Homo sapiens: one gene and its partner. The protein of the gene in region 1 purifies or fractionates together with the protein of each later gene. This does not show direct contact. Each region holds a gene or a part of one and is shown on either strand. Other genes may lie near its edges.

Region 1 (3,652 bases):
CTCCCGGGTTCAAGCAATTCCCCTGCCTCAGCCTCCAGAGTAGCTGGGACTATGAGTGCCCACCACCACGCCTGGCTAATTTTTGTATTTTTAGTAGAGATGAGGTTTCACCATGTTGGCCAGGCTGGTCTCGAACACCTGACCTCAGGTGATCCGCCTGCCTCGGCCTCCCAAAGTGCTGGGATTACAGGCATGAGCCACCGCGCCTGGCTGTCAGGGATTGCTTGTAAATGTACTGTAAGTAACACGACACAAGAAATGTAAAAATAGAAATGGTAAAGTCTCACTATAAGATTTAATTATTTACGATCTTTAGGAAATAAGTCACAAACTATTTTCTCTATTTCTTTGAAAAATATAAAAATTGGGCAAGGCATAAAAGTAACAATTACTTCCAAAGTTGATACTGATTTGCATTTAAAGCACCAATATTTGAACAGGTAATACTATAAAAACGTGTACTTAGCCTACACATTAGAGATAATACATGAGATGGCTTCTGAGGCACTATTTTTTTAAAAAGGATTTAGATACTTAAATTTGAAGTGCATGTGGGAAAAAAAAATTTTAACAAAGTATTTGCTCATTACCTGTATGTTTTCGAAGATGTTCTTTAAAATGTCCAAAATGGTCAAACTGTTTCTCACAGTACTGACATACATGAATTTTTTTCCCAGTTCTTTGCTTCTTACTGACTCCACCTTCTTCAAGGTGGTAACAATTTAGGTGCTGTTTCCATGCGCTCTCTCGAAGATATCGTTTATTGCATATTTCACACTTGAAACTCTCAGTGGAGTGTGATTTCATGTGCTCCTTAAAATGGTAAAACAATTTAAATGAACGGTTACATTTCTCACAATGGAACAAGTCCTTCACATGTGACAGCTGAAGTTCCACAATTTCAATACCTTCTACCTGTTTGCTCGTGGGGTCAGATGGACAGCCATCTTCTTTAATCTGCCCTTTTCTGTCACCTTGACGGTACTTGCTGGTAATATCTGCCAACAGTGCTAGAGCAGAATCATCAGAGGAACCTGTGCTCTGTATGTACTTTACGGACTGCTTGGCAGAAGCCACTTCCTCTAATGTTTCGATGCCTTCATCTTCCACTTCAATGGTGCCTTCGGCAATCTCTACCTCAATTTCAACAGGTTCTGATTCTGCAGATGGCAATGACTCAGTGATAACATTTGAAGTTTCTGCAATCTTCCTTTTTTTGGCCTCATTTTTTCCTGTGGTATTTTCCTCTAAGGGAGCTGAGTTTTCTTTGTTCCTGAAATACATAATGTAGGGGTTTAAAAAATCTATAAGAAGATCCTACCAGGCTTTTTTGAAGAAACTGATAAAGTGGCAATAAAATTTATATAAACAGTTATAAAACAAGACTGCAGGGCTTATCCTACCTGATTTCAAGACTTAAAGCTACAGTAATTAAGACAATAGTACTGGTGAAAGCATAGACACGAAGATTAATGGAATAAAGTCCATGGAAATAGACCCACGCTTAGTCAACTGATTTTTATGGGGGAAAAAAAGGTGCCAGTCAGGTGCAGTGGCTCATGCCTGTAATCGCAACACTTTGGGAGGCCAAGGCAGGTGGATCACCTGAGGTTGGGAGTTTGAGACCAGCCTGACTAACATGGGGAAATCTCGTCTCTACTAAAAATACAAAATTAGCTGGGCATGGTGGCATGCCTGTAATCCCAGCTACTCGGCAGGCTGAGGCAGGAGAATCACTTGAACCCAGGAGGCGGAGGTTGGGGTGAGCCAAGATCGCACCATTGCACTCCAGCCTGGGCGACAAGAGCGAAACTCTGTCTCAAAAAAAAAAAAAAAAAAAAAAGTTCCAAGCTAATCATTTAACAGTGATGCTAGAACAATTATGTGTATGGGAAAAATAAGCCTCAACCTTTACCTCATATCATACATGAAAAATTAATTCAAAATGGGTCACAGACCTAAATTTAAGAATTAGTAAATTTCTAGAAGAAAACAGGAGAAGACCTTAGTGACATTGGTTAGTGAAAGATTTCTCATTCTCTCACCCAGGCTGGAGTGCAGTGGTGTGATGTTGGCTCACTGTGGCTTCAACCTCTTGGGCTCAAGTGATCCTCCCACCTCAGCCTCTCAAGCAGCTGGGACTATAGATGCGTGCCATCACACTCAGCTAATTTTATTTTTGATAGAATCGAGGTCTCACTATGTCACCCAGGGTGGTCTTGAACTCCTGGGCTCAAGTGATCCTCCTGCCTCGGCCTCCCAGAGTACTAGGATTACAGACATGAGCTACTGTGCCCAGCTGACAGATTTCTTCTTTTTTTGTTTTTTTTTTTGTTTTGTTTTTTTGAGATGGAGTCTCGCTCTGTCACCCAGGCTGGAGTGCAGTGGCGTGATCTTGGCTCACTGTAAGCTCCGCCTCCCAGGTTCACGCCATTCTCCTGCCTCAGCCTCCCAAGCAGCTGGGACTACAGGCGCCCGCCACCACGACCAGCTAATATTTTGTATTTTTAGTAGAGATGGGGTTTCACCGTGTTAGCCAGGATGGTCTCGATTTCCTGACCTTGTGATCTGCCCGCCTTGGCCTCCCCCAAAGTGCTGGGATTACAGGCGTGGGCCACCGCGCCCAGCCTGCCCAGCTGAAAGATTTCTTAAACAGCATAAGAAAGGCAGAAATCATAACAGCAAAAATTGATAAAATAGATTTCATCAAAATTAAAAACTGCCCTCTGAAATACAGTTAATAAAAAAGCAAGCCACAGGCCAGAAGAAAATAGTTGCAAACATTTATCTGTCAAATTTTTTGTTTGGTTTTTTTTTTTTTTTTTTGAGACAGAGTATCTCTCTTGTGGCCCAGGCTGGAGTGCAGTGGCACGATCTTGGCTCACTGCAACCTCTGCCTCCCGGGTTCAAGTGATTCTCCTGCCTCAGCCTCCTGAGTAGCTGGGATTACAGGCTCCTGCCACCATGCCCGCCTAATTTTTGTATTTTTTAGTAGAGACGGGGTCTCACCATGTTGGCCAGGGTGGTCTTGAACTACTGACCTCAGGTGATCTGCCCACCTCGGCCTCCCAAAGTGCTGGAATTACCGGTAAGAGCCACTGTGCCCAGCCTAAAGATCTTATATCTAGAGTGAAGAAAGGATTCTCACAACTCAGTAAACTCAGTAAAAGACGACACCTGTTGGGAGACAATTCTCCTTGAGTCTCTTCAGTTTCCTCACATCTTGTGAACTGAAAACTTTCGGTTTGGATGTTTGCAGTATAGTATAGTAGATGAAAGGGCAGGTTTATTGTCCAATATAATAAAGAGAATGCCCCCACTCTGGAAAAAACGTTAGGCAGGTTTGTTTGTAGCCCACTATAAAAATTTTGAGATTCCTAAGCTGGAGATTCTTCAGCTATAATATAAATCAATCTTATGCATTCACCTGGGCCACTCTATGTCACTCTTGTGGGACTTGAGGGGAAGGGAAAACTGGTATAAAAATGAAATTTATACTGCTTGCTATGTAGAGAGTAATAAGGTCCTTTCTTTCTGACTCAGAAGTCTTCTATCTTCTTCCAGCATCCATGACACTGTGGCAGGAAAACTTGTAGGCTTGCAAGTAGAGTAAAATCTCATAGCTCTTGCCAGTTTTTTGGCATTGAGAATA
Region 2 (3,752 bases), on another chromosome or scaffold:
GCAGTGCCTTGTGGGACATTGAGACTGGGCAGCAGAAGACTGTATTTGTGGGACACACGGGTGACTGCATGAGCCTGGCTGTGTCTCCTGACTTCAATCTCTTCATTTCGGGGGCCTGTGATGCCAGTGCCAAGCTCTGGGATGTGCGAGAGGGGACCTGCCGTCAGACTTTCACTGGCCACGAGTCGGACATCAACGCCATCTGTGTGAGTGCACCCCCCACCCCAGCTTCACTCCAACTCCTTCCCCGACACTCCCCACAACACATACAATACACATCCTCTGCCCCTCCCATAGCTTCCCTAGCCCTTTCTTACTGTATTTTTTTTTTTTTTTTTTTTTTTTTTGAGACAGAGTCTCACTTTGTCGCCCAGGCTGGAGTGCAGTGGTGCAATCTTGGCTCACTGCAACCTCTGCCTCCTGGGTTGGAGCAATTCTCCTGCTTCAGCCTCCTGAGTAGCTGGGATTACAGGTGTGCGCCACCATGCCCGGCTAATTTTTGTATTTTTAGTAGAGATGGGGTTTTGCCATGTTGGCCAGGCTGGTCTTGAACTCTTGACCTGAGGTGATCCTCCCACCTCAGCTTCCCAGAGTGCAGTGCTGGGATTACAGATGTGAGCCACTGTGCCCAGTCTTCCCTAGCCCTTTCTTTCTTTCCTTTTTTTGGAGACAGAGTCTCACACTGTTGCCCAGTCTGGATGCAGTGGTGCTATCATAGCTCACCGCAGTCTCAACCTCCAGGGTTCAACCAATCCTCCCACCACAGCCTCCTGAGTAGCTGGGACTACAGATGCGTGTGACCACGCTTGGCTAATGTTTTGATTTTTGTGTAGAGATGGGTTCCCACTATGTTGCCCAGGCTGAGCTGGAACTTCTGAGCTCAAGCGATCCTCCTGCCTCAGTCTCCCAAAATATTGGGATTACAGGCATGAGCCACCACGCCTAGCCCATTTTATCACGTTTGCTTTATCATTTTTTCTCTGTAGAGAAATAGCCATAGATACACACACACATACACACTTAGATGTAGATATACATTTTCTTTCTGTGTCTTTTGAAAGTAGGTTGCAGACATCATGTTTCTTTACCCCTTAAGTACTTCCCGAAACAAAGCCCTTCTGTAGCATAATCACTGTATGATTCTTAAGATCAGGAAACTCAACATTGACACAATACTACAGTCTACAGTCTATATTCAAATTTCACCAATAGCCTCAAAAATGTCCATAATAGCTCATGTTTTTTTCTGTCCAGGATCCAATCCAGAAACGTGCATTACCTTTCCTCGCCATATCTTTTTCGTCACCACCTTTAAACTGGAACTGTTTTCCCACCTTTGTCTTTTATGTCATTGACGTTTTTGAAGAGTACAAACCAGTTTTCTGTAGACTCTCCCTCCGTTTGAGCTTATCTGACATTTGCTCGCCGTGAGATCCAGGCCTTGCATTTGTACTGGACCCTGTTCTTACACACCCTGATCCAGCCCACTTGTGTAGTCTGGGAGTCTGGGACAACCTCCGTCCGCCCTTCTAGCCGGGTCACTGCAGGCAAGCCTTGGTGCTCTTGCCTGCGACGTGGAAATGATGCCTGCCTGCAGCGCTGTATAGTGCAGAGCGGGCGAGGGGCATAGGGAAGTCACTGGCACGTGGTATGTGTTGGCAGGGCTGCTTCTCACCCCAAACCAAGGGAGGGACAGGCAGGGAGGCTGAGAGCAGCGGCTTGCCCTGGAGCTGTCAGGTGGGAGGCAGAGGGCGGGAGAGGCTGTGGGCTGCCCAGGTCTGATCCCTGACCCACTTGCCACCCGTGCCCTCAGTTCTTCCCCAATGGAGAGGCCATCTGCACGGGCTCGGATGACGCTTCCTGCCGCTTGTTTGACCTGCGGGCAGACCAGGAGCTGATCTGCTTCTCCCACGAGAGCATCATCTGCGGCATCACGTCCGTGGCCTTCTCCCTCAGTGGCCGCCTACTATTCGCTGGCTACGACGACTTCAACTGCAATGTCTGGGACTCCATGAAGTCTGAGCGTGTGGGTAAGGGCCAGCCCTGGCTGCTGCTTCCTCAGCTGGAAGGACCCTCCCCAGCCCTCCCTCCCCATTCTGTACCCCCCATCAGCTCCCATTTCGGACTCTCTTACTGCTGTCCCTTGTCACTGGGTGACTCCACCCCTGGAATCCAGTACCCCTTGGTTCCCAACTAGGACTGTTTTCCCTCAGTGTTGCTCTAAGCAGCCTCTCTCCACTGCCCAATGCCATGACTGCTCCCTGCCCTAGGAGATCTGTGGACCATGACTGTCCAGTCAGTTCTGGGTTCCTGGCATTTCAGGGGCACCCACTGAGAGGCAAGACAGCCTCAGGGAAACATGGAATCAAGGCAGAATCAAGGAGATCTGGAGTGGCCCGAGGGCCCTGACTGCAGCCTAGGGCTCATCTAAGACTAGCCTGAAGTTGGTCAGATAGGATGGCTTCTTCTCTATCAAGAGGCCAGGTGCTGATGAAAATAACACTGGCCAGGGGCAGAATCCAAATCCTAATTCTGTTGCTCACTTTCTGAGTGTCCTTGCACAAGTCACTCCTCCATGGGCCTCAGTTTCTTCATCTGGAAGCAAAGAAATAGGATGAACGGTTGCCTTCTCTTTTCCAGCACCTGTCAAGGTGCCCTCGGGTTTTTTCATAGTACACAGATGCTTCCAGCCTTTCTCTGTCTGATCCCAGCCCTCCCCCAACCAAAGCTCTTGACAGAGAACCCCCTGCCCTACAGCTAATCCTCTTTCAGTCTCTTAGCCTTCTTCAGGGGTTGAGCCCAGTCTACCGAGTCTAGGATCCCTGCATGCATGTGCTCAAGCACACATGCACACACACACGTACACACACCCACACATGCATACACATGCACACATATCCCCCCACACACCCACATACACACACACACCCACACACCCACACATACACTTACACGCATGCACACACTGCTTTCCAAATCAGCTTGGAGAGACAGGCTGACTCCTTTCCCTCTTCCTCAGGCATCCTCTCTGGCCACGATAACAGGGTGAGCTGCCTGGGAGTCACAGCTGACGGGATGGCTGTGGCCACAGGTTCCTGGGACAGCTTCCTCAAAATCTGGAACTGAGGAGGCTGGAGAAAGGGAAGTGGAAGGCAGTGAACACACTCAGCAGCCCCCTGCCCGACCCCATCTCATTCAGGTGTTCTCTTCTATATTCCGGGTGCCATTCCCACTAAGCTTTCTCCTTTGAGGGCAGTGGGGAGCATGGGACTGTGCCTTTGGGAGGCAGCATCAGGGACACAGGGGCAAAGAACTGCCCCATCTCCTCCCATGGCCTTCCCTCCCCACAGTCCTCACAGCCTCTCCCTTAATGAGCAAGGACAACCTGCCCCTCCCCAGCCCTTTGCAGGCCCAGCAGACTTGAGTCTGAGGCCCCAGGCCCTAGGATTCCTCCCCCAGAGCCACTACCTTTGTCCAGGCCTGGGTGGTATAGGGCGTTTGGCCCTGTGACTATGGCTCTGGCACCACTAGGGTCCTGGCCCTCTTCTTATTCATGCTTTCTCCTTTTTCTACCTTTTTTTCTCTCCTAAGACACCTGCAATAAAGTGTAGCACCCTGGTACATCTGTGATGTTTGCCTTCTACTCTCTTCTGTTCCAAAAAGACCCAGGTCCCATTTAAGGGCAGTAATGTGTTACAGGTGCTGTGATAAAGGCTGGGTACTGGATAGCTTGTGGGCTTATGGGAGGAGGC

The links. The genes of interacting proteins can lie anywhere in the genome.
Region 2: the proteins of ZNF131 (region 1) and GNB3 purify together in Homo sapiens (affinity purification with mass spectrometry; 2 studies listed by BioGRID and IntAct, with this or other methods). This does not show direct contact.

The regions. Positions count from the first base shown.
Region 1 is NC_000005.10:43,158,870-43,162,521, reverse strand, and holds part of ZNF131 (zinc finger protein 131), read right to left. Parts: intron 1,274-3,652; coding exon 591-1,273; intron 1-590. UniProt on the Homo sapiens protein: Plays a role during development and organogenesis as well as in the function of the adult central nervous system. May be involved in transcriptional regulation as a repressor of ESR1/ER-alpha signaling.
Region 2 is NC_000012.12:6,843,773-6,847,524, forward strand, and holds the end of GNB3 (guanine nucleotide-binding protein G(I)/G(S)/G(T) subunit beta-3), read left to right. Parts: intron 1-4; coding exon 5-206; intron 207-1,025; exon of another isoform or gene 1,026-1,813; coding exon 1,814-2,030; coding exon of another isoform or gene 2,031-2,197; exon of another isoform or gene 2,198-3,015; coding exon of another isoform or gene 3,016-3,019; coding exon 3,020-3,126; coding exon of another isoform or gene 3,127-3,131; 3' UTR 3,132-3,621; downstream 3,622-3,752. UniProt on the Homo sapiens protein: Guanine nucleotide-binding proteins (G proteins) are involved as a modulator or transducer in various transmembrane signaling systems.